Regions from separate parts of the Homo sapiens genome. Here all the other regions are linked to region 2. Evidence: fine-mapped expression QTL. A gene starts in region 2. Each other region holds a variant in brackets. All regions are shown on one strand. Distances are between the middles of the regions.

What was found. PIP is the estimated chance that this variant, and not a neighbour inherited with it, causes the effect.
Region 1: its variant is the best candidate, but not a certain one, in a credible set for the expression of PRKRA in whole blood (TOPMed, PIP 0.61).
Region 3: its variant is the best candidate, but not a certain one, in a credible set for the expression of PRKRA in whole blood (INTERVAL, PIP 0.58).

The regions. Positions count from the first base shown.
Region 1 is chr2:178,299,103-178,305,683 of GRCh38, forward strand. The region is part of intron 2 of OSBPL6 (oxysterol binding protein like 6); the gene reads left to right. Among named protein-coding and RNA genes, the nearest start is that of OSBPL6, 110 kb to the left of the region's middle. The variant A/T (reference allele first, on the strand shown) is at 2,993.
Region 2 is chr2:178,447,724-178,453,438 of GRCh38, forward strand. PRKRA (protein activator of interferon induced protein kinase EIF2AK2) reads right to left here and starts at 3,452. Exons shown (of 8, transcript NM_003690.5): 1 at 3,243-3,452; 2 at 2,519-2,688. The coding sequence starts at 3,307. It overlaps PJVK (pejvakin), which reads left to right and starts at 3,655. Exons shown (of 7, transcript NM_001042702.5): 1 at 3,655-4,046; 2 at 5,665-5,715. The coding sequence starts at 5,687. RefSeq lists an enhancer at 2,608-3,182 and a silencer at 2,945-3,724.
Region 3 is chr2:178,103,000-178,109,274 of GRCh38, forward strand. It overlaps a transcript of PDE11A not described here and the pseudogene CYCTP. Among named protein-coding and RNA genes, the nearest start is that of RBM45, 6.3 kb to the right of the region's middle. The variant A/G (reference allele first, on the strand shown) is at 2,738.

The DNA.
Region 1 (6,581 bases), 150 kb before region 2:
GAGCTATGACATTATCTAATCTTTCTTTCAAAACATGTTGGCAAAGGCCAGAAACCAAGTGATGAATCAAAAAGTGACTGACAAGTCTTGGAAAATTATTACTGGTGAAATGATCACTTACTATGCATTTAAGGTTTTTCCATGTCTTTTCATGGCCTTGATAGCTCATATCTTTTTTGCACTGAATAATATTCTTACTGATATTTTTAAGATCCTTTTTGTCGTTGCATAGACTAGTTTCTAGAATTCTTGTCTGTTCCATTTGCTTTTCCTGGCCCTGTACTACTACTATTAACCAGGGAAGCTGTTAAATAGCTTTAGTGTGTGATAAGTAAAGTATCTTTCATTATTTTTTAGAATATTCTTTGTTATTCTCATATGTTTACTCTTCCAGATGAACTTACTTTTTTTCTTTCTTTCCTTCCTTCCTTTCTTTGTTTTGTTTCTTTCTATTCTTTCTTTCGCTCCTTGTGGAGCAAAGTTAACCCATAAGCAGTGCATCCAGAGTAGCCCAGATGAACTTTAAAATAATATTGCCAAGTCATTAAAAATCCTGTTATGATTTTGGTAACGATTACATTAAATTGTGTCAATATGAGAGTAATAAGTGTTTTACAATATTTAGTTCACTGTAAAACTTACTTCAGATACAAAATTCAGATGTAGAGCTAAACAAAGTAAAAGATATGATTCCTTCTTCATTCTTTCTTTTCCCTTTTCCCACCCATCAGGTTTGATGGCTGTCCACATCAAGGATGAGGGTTTGTCTTATTCATTTACTTAGTAAGGGGCCTAAGAAGAGTGGAGAGAGATTAGAGGCTTGATGAGTTGAAATCAGGAAACTTGCATCTAGGATTTTCTAATGAGGTTCCTCCAAATTCTCTGTAAATAGTTACGCAAATATTTAAAAAGACAAACTGTCAATAACCCAAACACTAGCTTCAAACAGAATAATACAATGTCAAACTATAGAGGACTAAACCCTAATTTTATGAAAGCTATATATCTCAAATTGAGGAAAATCTAGCCAAGTTTTGATTATGACAAACCTTATCTTCACTTACAGAAAAGGAGTTGGCTTTTCTTACAATTTGTCCTCACACTTTGAGATCCCTGTAGGTCCCAATTAGAAAAAGTGGCAGCGTTCCAAGGGATGGGCAGGGGGTTCAGATGTTCCTCATAGACAAGGAGTGACACTCCAGGTGGATCACTCCATTATTCCTTTGCTTGGGACTGTGGACACACATTCTTCTTAGACCATAGGGTCACTCTCAGGGTGTGCTTAACTTATTGCTGTCAGATGTATCTGCCATAGAGAGGGTAAGGGAGGCAGGATGAAGGTCTGCTTTTTTTGTCTGTTTACAGCGGGGGCAGCGGGGACAGGGTCTCGCTCTGTCACCTAGGTGGGAGTGCAGTGGTATGATCTCAGGTCACTGCAACCTCTACCTCCTGGGTTCAAGTGATTCTTGTGCCTCAGCCTCCCGAATAGCCGGGATCACAGGCGTGTGTCACCATGCCCAGCTAATTTGTGTAGTTTTAGTAGAGACAGGGTTTCGCCATGTTGGCCAGGCTGGTCTTGAACTACTGGCCTCAAGTGATCCTACTTATCCTCCCAAATGCTGGGATTACAGGCATGAGCTACCACACCCAGTCCCATTTTACTCTTAACTGTCACTTACAGACTGTAGATTCCAGCGTGATTTAGAGAAATGTAAAGGGAAATGGAAATAGAACTTTAAAAGGAGAATTATATCTTTCAAATTATTGTCAAATATAAAAGGCTATTAAAACCATATGAAAGTCAGTATGCTGCAAAAGCCAGATTACCAAGCAAAGCCATCAAGCATTAAAGGAAACAAAGAAGAACCAAAAAAATAGAAAGTACAAAATGATATGGCAGGGGTAAGATCAATTATTAGTTAAAACATTAAATAGAAATTGGAAATACTTCACTAAAATTAGATTTTTTGAACAATTCAACCTGATCATTACTAGAGGGACACATAATATAAAATATACAGGAAGTTTAAATGGGAAGGATGGACAAAGTTTATTTAATCACTTGCAAGCAGAAAGGGAAGAGATGATATCAGATAAAGCAAAACAAAAAGTGTTAAAAGGAATGAAAAGGGTCATTTTTATAATGATCAAGACTAAATGTATAACTATTACAGACTCTTTTGTGATAAATCTCATTGTTCCAAAATATACTGAGTACAACCTAAACGTCCCAAAAGAAGAATGGTTAAATGTATTGTGGTATATCTGTGTGGTAGTCTTATTTGTAATGGTTAAGAATGGTATTGTTGAAGTTTCTTTGTTTATCAAAAAAGCCATTAGTGATATATTGTTGATCAAAAAACCATACTGCAGATAGTGTGAATATTATGCTTCTACTTTGATTAAAGTAGAACCAAAAATGTTAACAAGGGTTATCTCTCAGTGATGTAACTGGAGTCAATTTAAATATTTTCAACTGTACTTTTAATCTTTTCCTATAGTTTATATAGTAAATTATCATTATACCCAAATATCTACTGCCTCGCCTACTGGGAGAACTATAGTTTCATGCATCATTGACTCACCTAGGCCATGTGACTCGTTTTGGCCAATAAAACGTGAGTGAGCTAACCTGTACCACCTACAAGCAAAAGCTCTAAGAACCATCCCATGGTTCTGCAATGGCTCTTTGCCCTGCCTCTCCTGGGGGCTGTTTGTTAAGCCTGGAATGAAGAGCACTCAAGGTAGGTCTGCAGCTGACCTAAAGGACATGTAAATGAGCTAAAAATAAACCTTTCTTGTAAGCCTCTTGGAAGCAGAGAGACGGGGCCCTAACCTACTGGTGCCTTGATTTATCAGCCTTCAGGACTGTGAGAAAGACATTTGGGGCTTGGTTGTGACTCATTGCAACTTAGCCCAGGGCAAGTGGTCCCCAATCTTAAGTGTTTTTCTGGACACATACAATTTATGATGCCTTTGAACAGCAAGTTCT[A/T]GAAGTCTTCCCTACCAGCTTTTGCTTTAATTAGGTCCCTGGGTCATAAATCTGAGATTTATGCCACTCAATGAAAATGCAAATGTTACAGCACTTAGCAATACTTGTAGTGTTCCCACTGTTACAAAGGAAGAATGAGACAGAAAAATTAGATGTTCAGCTCTCTCATATTGCTGTTATTTTCAGTCACAATACGTTTCTCATTGAGTATAGTAATTATGTTGGTGTTGTGTTGACTTTAAAATTTATGGCCTTTCTTTGGTTTAGAATATTGTTTAGGCAATTTCTGAAAATGTTCTTTCGTAGAGATGACTTTTTTTTATGTTATAGCAGTTCCTACACTCTAAAGAATAACCTTCTCTCAGAGTTTAGACTTACTTTTATAATGCATTTGAAAAAGAGCAGGTGGTCAAACACTTGATTGAAAATTGGTTGGAATAATCTTTAAAGGGCATCTCATTCAACTTTATATTAAGTACTTGAAACCCTTTCTGTTAAAAAAAATAACAAAAATTAATAGAAACAACAACAATAACCTCAAAAACAATTCTTGGAATGAATTAAGTTCTCTTACTTTTTCTTCATTTTGCTATTATTCAACATATTTAAACTGTAGTTCAACTGAAATGTTGCCCTTTTATCATAAACAAGTTATCCTGAAAATGCCATTTTAAATTAAAACAAAAATCAAGGTGTTAGCATTGATGTTAATGAAAAAAGTACAGTTTTTTAAATGAAAAAATCCAGCAGAGGAAATATACCTTGGATTGAATTTACTTCCAAATGGATTTCAGTTTAATGAGTTAGGTTGTTACAACCTCATCCCTTGGAAGCACTTGAACGCATCACAAAAGTACCTCCTTTTTGGCTCAAGAGTCAGTATCTACTTGTAAAACATCTGGGACCAGAAAACTAAGTACTTCAAATCAAGGATCCGAGCAGTGTCTGTGCATTCTGTTTGCTGGCACCACAGCTTGGAATCAGAAACTTCACTCACTTATTAGAATGCCTTCATAAAACAAAAAGATTAGATGATCATCTGTCAAGTGGAGGTTTATTACTACCTTTTGCCAATAATGAATGAAACTATCTCTAGCTCACAGAAGAGATATACAGCGCTTTCCATTTCTGTTTGTCCAAAGGCTAGTTTTGTTTCAAGAGAAAGTCTCCCAGTTTGGAGGGAAAGTAGCTTTCATTTTTCCTGCGGTGACAGTGAAGTTGAAATTTTAAGACTGGATTACAAGTTCTATTCACTAGAATGTCCAGTTTTCACAGTTTACAAAAATTCCCCCTGTAATTATTGGGATTGTTCTTTTAGGTATTCTCTATAAACAGGTGACCATTAAAATCCTGAATAACACATTCAGGGTGACATAATCCATTATTAAAAATATAACTATAGGACCATATAAAATTTCATTTACTGGCACATATGAAATTTACATGATCTTAAAGGATCTGATTAATATATCTGTATCATTACCATAGTCTATTAAACATTTACATCTCCAGCCTAGATTTCCCTGAGCTCCAGACCTACATTTCCAAGAGTTTGTCTCCAACTGAATGTCTTCAGCAATGTCTCTAACCACAGTCATGACTTTCCCATGGATCTTGGATTTCCTTTGACCATTTCTTGCTCAGAATGCCAGAGACCTGAGATTTAGCCTCAACCCTGCCTCCCCGACCATGTCCAGTCACAGGACACAGGACTCAATGTTGGAATTTCTGCCAGCACTCTCCCATCCTCTCCTGAGTCCTGATTGGGCCCTCCTCATCTTCTTTACTTCCCCACTTGGAGTCTCCCCACAGCTGCCAAAATCACCCTTTAGTAACACAAATCTGGTTACGTCTCGATGGCTTCTCATGCTTATGATAAAAATCAAAATGCCAATGTCTTAGTCCACTTGTGCTTCTATAACAGAATACCCAAGACTGGGTAAGTTATAAAGAACATAAATTTCTTTCTCACAGTTCCGAAGGCTGGGAAATCAAGGCACCAGCAGGTTAGGGCCCTGTCTCTCTGCTCCCAAGAGGCACTTCAAATGCTGCATCCTCTGGAGAGGAGGAACCTCATGTCGTCATATGGCAGGAAAGCAGAAGAGAGAGAACCCACTCCCACAAGCTGTATCAGTCAATTCTCATGCTGCTAATAAAGACATACCCAAGAGCACCTAATTTATAAAGGAAAGAGGTTTAATTGACTCACGGTTCTGCATGGCTGGGGAGGCCTTAGGAAACTTATAATCATGGCAGAAGGGGAAGCAAACACTTCCTTCTTCACATGTCAGCAGCGAGGAGAAATGCCAAACAAAAGAGGAGAAAGCCCCTTACAAAACCATCAGGTCTGACCTCTCATGAGGACAGGATGAGGGTAACCGCCCCCAAGATCAAATTACTTCTCATCTGGTTCCTCCCATGACATATGGGGATTATGGGAACTACAATTCAGGATGAGATGTGGGTGGGAACACAACCAAACCATATCACAAGCTGTTTATATAGTGGCACTAACCTAGTCACAAGGGCTCCACCCTCATGACCTAAACACCTCCCATTAGGCCTCACTTCCCAATACTGTTGCGTTGGGGTTAGGTTTCTAACACATGAATTTTGGTGCACATATTCAGACCATAGCAACTGTCATGGCCTACAAGGTCCTGCAGGGACTGGTCTCTGCATTTCTTTGACCACCATATCGCCATATCTCTGACTCTAGTCATATTGGCTACCACTCATCTGTTGATCATGTCACGCCAGACACCCTGGTACTTAGTAAACCGCTCATTCTTTGGACCTCAGCTCTAACTCCCAGATCCATTAGTTCACCTCAGTCACTGTCTTCATAATGCCCATATATCTCCATCTTTTTTTGTTTATCTGATTCAGTGTCTCACCCTCTGGACTGAAGTTCAGGTCTCACTTTTTTGTGGCCTAAAAATTGATTTCTGTTTCCTGCTAGCAGCTTTCCTTCCCAGCCTGTGCTAACAAGCCTACACAAGTGTTCTGGTGTTCTGTACTTCCTCCAAGAAGATATTAGCATTAAGATGGGGGCTAGAATGTGACCTTCTTCTTGTAAGAGGATAAAGTTCACTTTAATTGTCTATCTTTTGGGAAATATCATTTTTTAAGCTTTTAATGTTATACCATAGTGCTTACCTTTTAACATTTTTTAGCATAGCTGTGTTGGAGACAAGGCCAATTTAAGAGCTTCTCTCTGACACAAGCTTTAACCTTAATACTAACAATGCAAACCTTCCTTACATGAATCCAAGTAAAAAAATTGAAGTGGCTGTTGGCTGTGCATAAGTGAAGGAACTCCATTTACCCCTGCTCTAAGATAACCTGTCAATCTGTAGATGTTTGCGAGCATGTTGGTTGTTGAGAGTCACATGTAGGCATGCTGTAGTTTTGAGGTACAAATAAATGTGGATATATGTATTCCTGGATCCTTCACAAATGCTGGATCACAGGATGCACACAATGTGTTAACTCTTTTGTAACTGACTACTTTGTGTTGGATTAACCGTCACATACATGACATAGCTAAACTAAACTGAAGACAAACATGGACCGAGCTCTTATTCTA
Region 2 (5,715 bases):
ACTGTACATAAAAATATGTACATGTTATATACTACATGGTTATATACTGTAATAAAATATTCACCATGTGAAAAAATTTTAAAAAATAACTTTTTAAAGTTCTATATAATTCTATGCATACCTGCATAAAAATCCTTATTTCTACATTATATATGTTTATTATATAACATGGTAATAAAGTAGACCGTGTCACACCTCTGAAGAAATGCAGATTAGTATTTTACTCTTCCTTTATTCCTGGAGGGGAAATTCTTCTGCAGCAAGAAGTTTCTTTTAAAGGAACCATTTACAGCAGAATTGTTTGATAGCAAAATGTGCATAATTTTATTCTGACAGCCTGTCCTATAACGTATCAAACTGCTTTGCTAGGCTGAGCAGTCATGATTATGTGTTGGGTACAACAGGAAAGAGTTTTATGGAATAAGGTGACAGCTTGTTATGTATCTTCTGGACGGTCTGTATCTTCTGCATGGGTAGCTAAGTTGGGACTGGGGATAAGACTGATGTCTAATTTCAGTAAGCAATCACAATGGCAAATGATAAATTCCATCTTTTTCCTTTTAAGTTCAAACTCCCATACCCTCATGGAATAAGTTTCAAGTGTGGCCTTCAAGTGTGGCCCTCAAGTGTAAGAAGACACAGAAACCATATATTTATCTGCTAACACAGGTATTAGGGATATAGCATACAGGGTCCCTGCCCTCAAGAGCCAACAGAGTAGTGTGGGATTTTTGTCTGTTAATAGGCACCTGAAGTATGGAATGGGATATGTTACAACAAGCCTAAGTGCAGGCTGTAGCGGAGGTTGCAGTGAGCCAAGATCATGCCACTGCACTCTAGCCTGGGTGACAGAGTGAGACCCTGTCTCAAAAAAAAAAGAATGAACACTGGTTGTAATGTGACAAAAGGACATCACAAGACTAGAAGGTAAACGTGTAGCTACAAGACTGCAGCTACAATCCAAGTGAGAGATGATGGTGGCCTAGGCAGTAGCAATGGCCAGAAGAGAGAAGCCGACAGATTCAATGGATAGTTAGTGGATTATTAAACGCCAATGGATAGAGTTTAATAACAGACTGGACAAGAGGGAGAAAGACGGGAAGTAGTTAGGAAGACAAAAGCCTACATTTCTACTGAACTAGGTGATTGTGGAGCCTTTACATAGAAAGGGAATGCAAGAAGAATGGGTTTGAGGGAAAAGATGGATTCAGTTTGGGACAATGAGAGGCTTGAGGGGCCTCTGTGTCATCCAGGCAAAGATGCTCAGCAAGCACAGACTGATACACTATTCTGTAACTGGGCTTGGGATGTAGACAGACATTTCAGAATATTAGTCTTTAGACAGTATCAGAAGCCATGGAGGCAGATAAGCTTGCACAGGAAGCCATGGTAGTGTGAGAAGAGGGCGTAGGCAGAACGGTTGCCATAGGTTGTTAATTTGGGGTCTAAAACACATTGAGAGGGAAAAACCCTCCCTTTTCTTGAATTCTTCCTATCTAGAAATAGACTAGCTAAAGTAAGTAATGCAGTGTTGACTCTATGGTTCCCATGGGGACCCTTCCGGCCAGCACCTACAATCTAACTGCCTCACACAAAAAGTTTTAAACTTTTCTTAAAGTGGCATCAATTAAAATAAAAGACTCCAAACTTCCAGGGACACAAACAAATGCTGTCTTCAGATTTTCCAGATGGTAGAACTTGAGCCTTCCTACTAAATTTTTTTCTTGGCATTCTTCCAAATTAAATTTAGCATCCAATGTTTTCTGTGTTTGCAATTAAATAGATACATAAGAAAAATAATGTCCACATTTACAAATGAGCAACTTTAGTTATCATTTGCTCAAGCTCACAGACCAAAAGAAAGCATGAACTTTAAAATTTCATTGCTTTGTGACTTCATTGCTATACGCATGTTACTTATAATCTCTCTGAACCTGTTTCTTCTTGTTTAAAAAGTGGATAATATACAAAATATCTGTTCAGTTTCAAAAACTAGAAGTTATTATGTAATATATGAGGACCTTCTCCCCTTCCTCATTTTGTTTGGATACAGAATCAAAAGTAGCACAATGGACCTAAAGTGCCAAATGAGTCCATACAGAGAGGAGAGACGCTCAGAAAATTCTGGGGTCATGCCTCCTGGCATCCGCTATAATCTATGAAACTTCACAGTACCTACTGACCCAGCTATGACTGCTCCAAGAACCTTTCCTGCTTCCCTCTAATTCTAAGAAGAACCCTAGGAGGATCCTAGGGTATGAGAAGAGCCATGCAGGATCCAGCCATCCGGCTGGGTAACTTTTTAGTTTCTAAGCTTCCTTGGTATGTGGGGAAGAGAAAATTAGGAAGAGAATCAGATGCAGCTGAAAAGCCCTAACGACCTGAGATGAGAGGTCTCAGTTTCAGAGCCTGTTCCTCACAGCTGTCTGGCAAAAAGAGAACTTTTCCGAACTGAAAAGCAACACCAAGTATTGACTGCCAACCCACTCGGTCATCCAGGTTAACTGTGTATACAGACCTGTGCAGGTTATGTCACCAACGGTTACTCTGAAGGTGAAAGTGGGCACGTGTATTTGCACATCAGATCTTTCACATTCATAAACTGGGATGTTCTTGGTCTTCATGCCGTATTCGTGTAATACCTGAATCGGTGTTTTCCCTGGCTTAGCTGTTATCATCTTCCCCAAACTGCAAAAACCACAAAAAGGTGTGCTTTGCATGCCAAATTGGAGATTGAAGCAGAAGCGTAGAGGCCAGTTTTAACCGCCACCGACGGTGACGAGGGAGGCGCCGAGTTCCCCGGAGGCCAGGGCCAGAGCTGGCGAGGCTGGGGCGCACCTGTCTTCCGGCCCCGCTGCGGCAGTCACTCCGCAGGAGCAGGCGGGGTGAGCGAGGTCTTTAGAGAGAGCACTTGAATGCGGGTAGGAGAGATTCTCAACAGAACAGGGCTGGCAGCAGCGCCGCAGCCTCTCAGGGAAAACCTGACGATCCCTTCCCGGGCGCGCCGACCGAGCGTCACCTCCGCCCGCCCCGCGCGCCGCCAGGGACCACGAGAGGGGCGGGGCCCGGCCGCAGACCCCAACCCTCGCCGCCGAGAGGGCGGGGCCGAGCACCCACAGCCGCGGAGGCGTGGGCGCCGGGCACGGCTTTACCCAGAATGCCTCTGGAGGGCCGGCTCCCCGCGCCCCGGCCCTGCCGCCCAACGCTCCCGGCCCTGGGGCCCTGACTGCCCGCACGCTGACCTGAAGGTCCCACTGTCCTCGCGCTCCAGCGGCGGGGCCTCGGCGCGGTGCCTGCTCTGGGACATGGCGAGAAGGGACGGCTCAGCGGCTGGAGGAAGAGCGGTGCGGAGCGACGTGCTCGCTCCCCGGGTCGCTGGTCCCCGGGAGGAGCTCCAGCGCCGCCACCTCCTCCGACTCCCCCGCCTCCTGCTTGCGTTGCTCCAGCGAGGGGGCAGGCAGGGTGGGGGCGGAGCCTTGGTGCCGTAGCTCCGGCTACGCCCCCTCGCTGCTCCTCTGCGGGCCTCCGTCCCGGCCCAACTCCGCCCCTGTCCCTTCCAGGGTCCGCCCCCTTCCCGCCCGGCTCCGCCCCGCTCCCGCGTGGGCACAGGCATTGGGCTCCCGGGGGTTCTCCGCGCCCGCCCCTGCCGGCCCTGACCAGCCTGTAGTAACTGGCCCCTAGGCCGCAGTTCTTTGTCCTTAGCAGGAGGCCGTTTCTTGCCGGGAGAGAGGGATTAGAGGGATTGTCCGGCGTGGGTCTAGGGTCGTTGAGGCCTAAAGTTAAGCCTTTGTGGGGAGGACGGATTGGGGGCTGGGTCACTTTAAGAAAAAGATTCTAAAATTACGAAGGCAGAATTCCAGGGAGTCTCCCGGGCCTGGTCCTGAAGCTTGAGACCCCGGATATATACGCTCCAGGGGGCTGCGGTGCGCTCTTCGGGTCCCCGAGCCCTGTGTTTAGGAACACGCGGGGACGTCCAAACACCCGCTCCTCTCCCGCCGGGCGGGCTCCTTTGTCTTCTGGGCTTTCGTCGCGAGATGGAACGCTGGGTCAGTGCATCCCAGCAAAACACGTTAGGAGTAAACGAAGGCCTTTCCGGGGACCTGGGTAGTCGGTTGTAATGGCGTTTGCCTGGGATGCAGCACCTTTGGTGGGCCATTAGATGACGTGTCGCTTCTCCAGGGGCTTGCTAGGCACTAGCAGAAATGCTCCCCTGTGCTTACTCGGTGTTATGGAAGATTGCTTGCACAATGCTATTCGTACGAAAGGATATTATTAAAAGTGATTTATGGGCGGGCGCGGTGGCTCACGCCTGTAATCCCAGCACTTTAGGAGGCCGAGGCTGGCGGATCGCCTGAAGTAAGCAGTTCGAGACCAGCCTGGCCAACATGGTGAAACCCTGTCTCTACTAAAAATACAAAAATTAGCCGGGCGTGGTGGCATGCGCCTGTAATCCCAGCTACTCGGGAGGCTAAAGCAGGAGAATCGCTTGAACCCGGGAGGCAAATGTTGCAGTGAGCCGAGATCGCGCCACTGCACTCCAGCCTGGGCGACAGAGTCAGACTCCCTCTCAAAAAAAAAAAAAAAAAAAAAAGCGATTTGTTGTTTTGTTAGCATGTAAGCCCTGGATGCTTGAAACAAGTGAAAGATGTTCAGAATCTAATCAAATTATATCATCTGATGCTTTAATTAGAGCCTATTCTCTCTTCCTCTCCGTCTATATATGTATGTATATAGATTACTATCCATCACTGTTTTAATGGATATCTTATTGGAAGGGCTACATAGTCAGTATTTCACAATATATGAACTCCGCATAACACCTATGGCAAAACATTTCAGCACTCAGGTAAAATTCATTTTTTGCCACAAAATTACTTAAAAACAGGCCAGAACTTTATATAGCTCTTGTTAAAGGTTAAGTAGCTGGGATAATAATGAAACAAAAAGATGCAGCAGGACTCCATTTCAAAGAGAGAGAGTCTGTGTGCCCAACTTCAGAGTAAGAAACCACTAGGTAATAGTTTATATAGTTACTTATATGTAATGTGGCTTTATTTTTTAAATAAAGATTTGCATATAATTGTTTATATCTGTGAATTTATATTTAATATTAAACACAGTTTTGTAAGCATATAAGATGGAAAATGAATGAAATGCTCAATCAATGAGCTGTATGCCATGAGGATTCAAAACAGCACTTTGGTGTTGCCAAAATTCCGGTGGTGGACTTGTGAAGGAATTCCCTTTGGACTAGGTCCACTGTAGATTGTATCCGGGACTATCGTTAGTGCCTAAATTGCATTGCTTCCCACAGCACTATATGCTTCCCTTAAAATTGGCCCATTGCCAGTGGCAAATCACTATCTACTGTGATCCTTATCATAGACATTGGTCATATTTTTACGTTATTAGTTTTCTGTGTATATTTTAGTGCTATAGCCTGCCATTCCAAGTTAAACATGCTCTTAGCATATCATTTTACACCGTTGATCTATAATTCATTACCTGAGCACATGAGCAGAGGCAGGGAATTATACAGTGGTAAACTACTTGGTGAAACCATGCTTTGTATTTTTAAGATGTATAATTATATTTAAAAACAAGCAATGCTTAATTTTGTGCCTGATTTTCCTCTTTAAAAATGGATTTATCTGGGGGTTGCAGTTGATGACGTTTTGATTTTAATATGTTTGCTGCTGCTACCAAGAGCTTTGT
Region 3 (6,275 bases), 340 kb before region 2:
AGATTGGAATTATGTAGCTAGAGGTCATAACTAGAATTTCACCCATAAAAAGGAATGAAAAGCATCACAAGAAGTGTTGATTGCCATAAAAAATTATTAGACTTAGTTTCTCAGTACCACCTGTTGTATTCCAGGTTGTTTGTTGTAATTTTGTTGTTGTTGTTGTTAAATATACATTTCCAGTGGGGGGGGAAGGAATGAAGTACTGATACATGCTACAATTTAGATGGGCCTTGAAAACATTATGCTAAGTGAAAGAAGTCAGACACAAAGGGTCACATATTATATGATTCCTTTTATATGATCCAATAGGCAAATCCAAAGAGACAGAATGCAGATTAGTGGTTGCCAGGGAATAGGGTTAAGGGGGAATGCAGAGTGATTACCTAATGGATGCAGTTGTTCTGGAGTGATAAAAAAGTTTTGAAAATAGGGAAAGGCGGTGATTTTACAGCATTATGAATGCACTAAATGCTACGGAATTGTACACTTTAAAATGTCTAATTATGTTATATAAATTTCACTTCAATAAAAATAATAAAAAGAAATAAAAAATAAAATAAAATCCTTTTCAAATAGTAGTGACTTGAAATGCCAACCTATAAGATATGCTAGGCCCCAAGAAAAGTTTCAAATAGAGTTATACCCTATTTTGAAAAAAGGTGATATATATATATAATCTCAAAAAAGCTGATATATATATATAAAACCATATATATATTTAACAGGATTATCATATTATAATTTCCATTCTTAGACAGATAGATAGATAGATAGATGTACACATATAAATCTCCATATGATTAATCCAGGAATGACAAATTGCTTTGCAAAGATAGTGTAGTCTTTTCCAACCACTTCGATCTTAACCCTAAGATACTGTCTCACTTTACCCTCTTCCCACAAACAAAAAAACATGCTGAATATACGCTTCAAACTATATAGTATTTCTCCCACTCTGCTAAAATCAATACTACAAATAGAATCACTACTGCCATTATACCACTAAAATATGATTTTTTAAAAATCTAGCTTATACTTTTTCAAGAAAAATGTATTACCTAAAATCAAATACCCTGTATAGGCAAAAACCTATGCCATACAAGATTCTTAATTCTTCTGATTAAAAGGATGATCAGTTATCCAAATGCAGGTCTTATGATATAAATCCATATTTCAGTAATATGTAAAGAGTGGTCCATTTTTAACGCTGCAAATTAGGAAATTATTATAATGCCAAATCATATGCTTTATTCTTTCCTACAGTGTATCTGGTTCTCTCCCACAACTGCTAGTTTTTACCTTTGTTTTTGTTTGCCTCTGTATAAGAAAATCCTGGTGCTTTTCCTGTTTTTCAGCCAAAGAGGCCCCAGAGATTTGGACCAGTCTTGTGATTTTCACCTTTTTCCACTGTGTGGCACTGAGCACATTTCTGAATAAAGGTCTTCTTGCCTGCTTCAGCATCTCCCATGTTGCTCTGCAATGGAACATTAAAACCACAAACCAAAAAAATATATATATTAGATTTTCAAAGCCGGGGAGAAAAAAGAATTCCATCATTTTGACTGAAGTGAATGCTGATGATGTTAAACAAAAACATATCCTTTAAAGCATGCAAGCTTTAATGTATGAGTGCTCAAAAACACAGATATATTATAACATCCAATTTCATAAAGACAATCATCTCATTAATTAGGCTTATTTTAAGTTTCTAGCCATAGCTACTTCAGAAACTGCTATTGGTATCAAACGGGTTTTACTTCAGCCTTCAAAGAATTATATTAATTTATCCAGGTCAATTATATTCCTTTTCATTTCTAAAAAGTGCATGTGCAAAAGATGATGTAAAACATATAGGTCTAATTTTGCAACCCCTTATTTAAAAATAAGAATAGAACAAATAGGAAAGGTGTTTAACTATGATATTACTATGAGTATTTATATGTCTACAATAATCAAACTGTAAAAATAAAAATTATACAGAAAAGAATGCAGCCATAGAAACCTGTATGTAACATAATTTCTCATTTACTTTACATTCTTAGCTATAGATACCAGATTAGATCAAGCATTATCTGAAAGCAATCAGAAATAACATTATTGAATTCAGTCAGCAATAGTATGCATTTAATACTAATGTAGTGGAAAATACACAGTTTTAAGTAGTAAAGACCCTACTGGGTTGGGTGCGGTGGCTCATGTCTGTAATCCCAGCACTTTGGGAGGCCAAGGCGGGCAAATCACAAGGTCAGGAGTTCGAGATCAGCCCGGCCAAGATGGTGAAACCCCATCTCTACTAAAAATACAAAAATTAGCCGGGTGTGGTGGCGGACGCCTGTAATCCCAGCTACTCGGGAGGTTGAAGCAGAGAATTGCTTGAACCTGGGAGGCGGAGGTTGCAGTAAGCTGAGATTGCGCCACTGCACTCCAGCCTGGGTGACAGAGAGAGACTCCCTCTCAAAAAACAAAAACAAAAACAAAAACCTTACTGTATGATGGTAGACATATAAAATAAATTTTTTACAAAGATATTTTGGTTGAGACTGTTAAAAATTCTATAACTAAATAAATGCCTCCTCCATCTAAAATGATGTAAAAATTAAAATAAGTTCAAACTATCAAAAAATTGTACTTTATCGATGTCTCAGGAGGTTCTCCATGGTGGTACAGGATGGCATAATGAAGGCCCTGAATGTGGAACCTGATGGCATAGGTCTCACCTGCAGCCTGGCACCCA[A/G]TATCACCTCACAGCTCTGAGCCCCTGGGCCAGATCACTTCCTCCACCCCTCCCTATCTCACCTGCCCAGCCAACTGGGACCTTGGCCAGATTTCTGCAATAAACACTTGCGGTTTCTGTCCAAAAAAAAAAAAGTGTACTTTAATATAGTAAGGAATATGCTGTCTGGGTTCTATTTTTCTGTTTTTGTGTTCTGTGAAGAATGAGTGCAAGGGAGATGGGGTTTGGGATGGATTTGAACACAAAGAATTACTACTACAGACATCATGAAAATACCAAATTCTTTGAGAGTAGAGTCCTAAGCACATATTGATCTATCAATAGAAACAGAAAACGTTTGTGTTATTCTGCCAATATTGAAGAAACCTATTGTTTAACTACAATTCATAAATTGTTTAACATACTGTGGTTAAACAATCTGTATTCTTCAATATTGGCAGAATAACACAAACATTCTTAGTTACTGCTCCAAGAAAGGCCAATGCTTTATACACAACAACCTGCAAAACCAGCTCTCCCTAACTTCTTTAAATCTATGTGGAAACCCATAACAGTGTCAACAATCCAAGTAAAGGGAAGATAGTTTTCTTTAGGCAGTATCCAAAAACAACTAAGCTATTAACCAATAGTTCAGGTTTCATGGAAAGCCGGGTAAGAAAACTTACTTTATCCAAGAGAAGCTTACTTTAAAACTTCAAACATCACTCAGAGTACTGCATTCAATTATCAGTTCTATTAATTACCTAAATAGGTTCAGAATTCAGTGAGCCTTTGAGCACAGACCATAGAGGATAAAACTTCACTCACAAAAGCACATTTTTGGCCTTTTCACAAAATACATTCACCATAACCATAAAGCTTGTATCATAAAAAAGTCATCTAAGCACTAACTAGATAATCTTTATTTCCAATTTTTATACAAAGCAGAAAAATCAGATTGAGGCTGGGCATGGTAGCTCACACCTGTAATCCCAGCACTTTGGGAGGCCGAGGTGGTTGGATCACCTGAGGTCAGGAGTTCGAGACCAGCCTGGCCAACATGGTGAAACCTTGTCTCTACTAAAAATACAAAAATTAGCCGGGTGTGGTGGTGCATGCCTGTAGTCCCACCTACTCAGGAGGCTGAGGTGAGAGAATCACTTGAACCCGGGAAGCGAAGGTTGCAGTGAGCCGAGATCGTGTCACTGCACTCCAGCCTGGGCGACAAAGCAAGACTCTCTCAAAAAAAAAAAAAAAAAAAAGGAAAAGAAAAATCATATTGATTTTTATACTAAGTAAATGTTGCTAGTAATTCAGGAAACCAGACATTTAAAAACAAACAAAAAACTGTCCTTACTCATAAACTACAGATTTCACATTAAAGTCACGTGTAACATATTTCCATTATAACTGTTAAAACTACCAGCATTAATCACAATTAAAACGTTTACTTCTGCCCTCTCTAATCATAGACGAATACTGCCAGTGCAAATACCTATGACCCTCTTCCAAGTGCATTAAAACCAACAGATTCAGTAATAGCAGGAAGGGAAGAGCAGGATAGCAAGGGATAGAATATCTTAAGAAGGACAGGAAGAATATGAAAAGAATTCATTTTGTCCTATAATCATTTGGCACTCTATCAGCATTTCATATTTCAAAAGAAATATCTCACTGAAATAGGCAAAGATGTGGCATCTAGTATGAAAATGGTCATTCTTCCAAGAATGAAGTAATTTCAACATTAAATAGAGTAACAGTAGCAAACATTTGTATGTGCTTAGTATGTGACAGGCATATTCTAAGCACTTTATATATTATTAACTCATTTAGTTCTCACAACAGCCCTGTAAGATGGATACCATTAACATCTCTATTTTTATAGATGTAGAAAACGAGGCAAACAGAAATTAAGTGACTTGTTTACGGTCACAGATTGGTGAGCAGTGGAGAAGAATTAATATTCAATCTATAATCTTATAGGTTTAACAATTCCTTTTTTTTTCTTTTTTTTTTTTTTTTTTGAGACGGAGTCTCACTCTGTCGCCCAGGCCGGAGTGCCGTGGTGTGATCTCGGCTCACTGCAACCTCCGCTTCCCGGGTTCAAGTGATTCTCCTGCCTCAGCCTCCTGAGTAGCTAGGATTACAGGCATGCACCACTATGCCTGGATAATTTTTGTATTTTTAGTAGAGACGGGGTTTCACCATGTTGGTCAGGCTGGTCTTGAACTCCTGACCTCGTGATCCGCCTGCCACGGCTTCCCAAAATGCTGGGATTAGAGGCGTAAGCCACCATGCCAAGCCAACAATTACTTTTTAAGGGTGACTTGGCAACCCTGTGTTGAACACAATATCTGTAACACTGCAGATGCTTACAACTTTTTACCCAACTGAGAGTGCTTAAAGAGGAATAGGTGGGTACATACCATTGCTATGTCTTATTTTTCATAAAAAGAGAAATGCTAATGAAACACTTTTTAATATTGGCATTAAAAACGGCCAGCGGTTCCTCCCTTTGCCCCCGCTCCCAGCAGTCACCTGGAACAGCCACCTGGCCAGAGTCCACGCCTCAACTTCGAGGCTGGCGATCCAGAAAGAGCACCTCACGCCCTGGGCTGCAAGCGCAGCCGGACGCGCGCGACCAGTGATCGCCAGCCAATGGCAAGCCGGGACCCGGTCCCACTGCTGATTGGCCCCCAGATCCCGTGGGATCTCACCTCTCGCAGAGGCTTAAAGCCTTGTACTTGCTGTGCAGTGCTTGGCTCTGCGTGCCCGCTGTCCAGTAGCTGTGGATAGCTCTTGAGCTGTCGGAAACTGGCTAATTCAACTGAAGAAATGAATTTTTAATTATTTTCATTATAATTCATTTTAATTTTAGGTAATTTTAAGTAATTTTAATTTAAATAGCCACAGTCACCAGATGCTTTAATGAAACTATTCTAAGTGGTATCTATGAATTTTGTCCTGTGATCTACACATTTAAAAGATGTATGTCATCAAGTTGAATCAAAAGGAGCAGGCATACTGTGAAAAAAAAAATCAGGTGTTAGATATTATTCTCAAACTCAAAGGCATGCAAACTCAAGAAGGAGACTACCATTTCTTGAGTGCCTGCCACAGGTCAGACTAAGTAATTGCCTACGTTATCAGTAGACAGTAGCCTTACAGATGGGTCAAATGGAAACTCTGGATCATATTCATATACAACAATCTGAAAGCTACTAATTGATCACCAATAAGTCTTAGTTTTAAAACCTATAAAAAATTTGCAAATAGGGCGAAATATTTTTAGTTAATTGATGTAACATATGAAGACTAATATCACCAACTAAGTAAGCCTCATTGTACTTCAGTTTGGAAAATAATGACAAAAATTTACTATTTGCTCCTGGCATTTCAAAAATTAGTCACAATATCACCTCTCATTTTTAAAAAGAAAAGATTTGAGGGAGAAAAAGTTTCAAAAAAATCTGAATTTCATGTGAAACAAACATGTGTGCACATTCTAATAACAGTGCTTTATAGGCTACATGTTCTAAAGCCTTGAAAAAAATTTAAT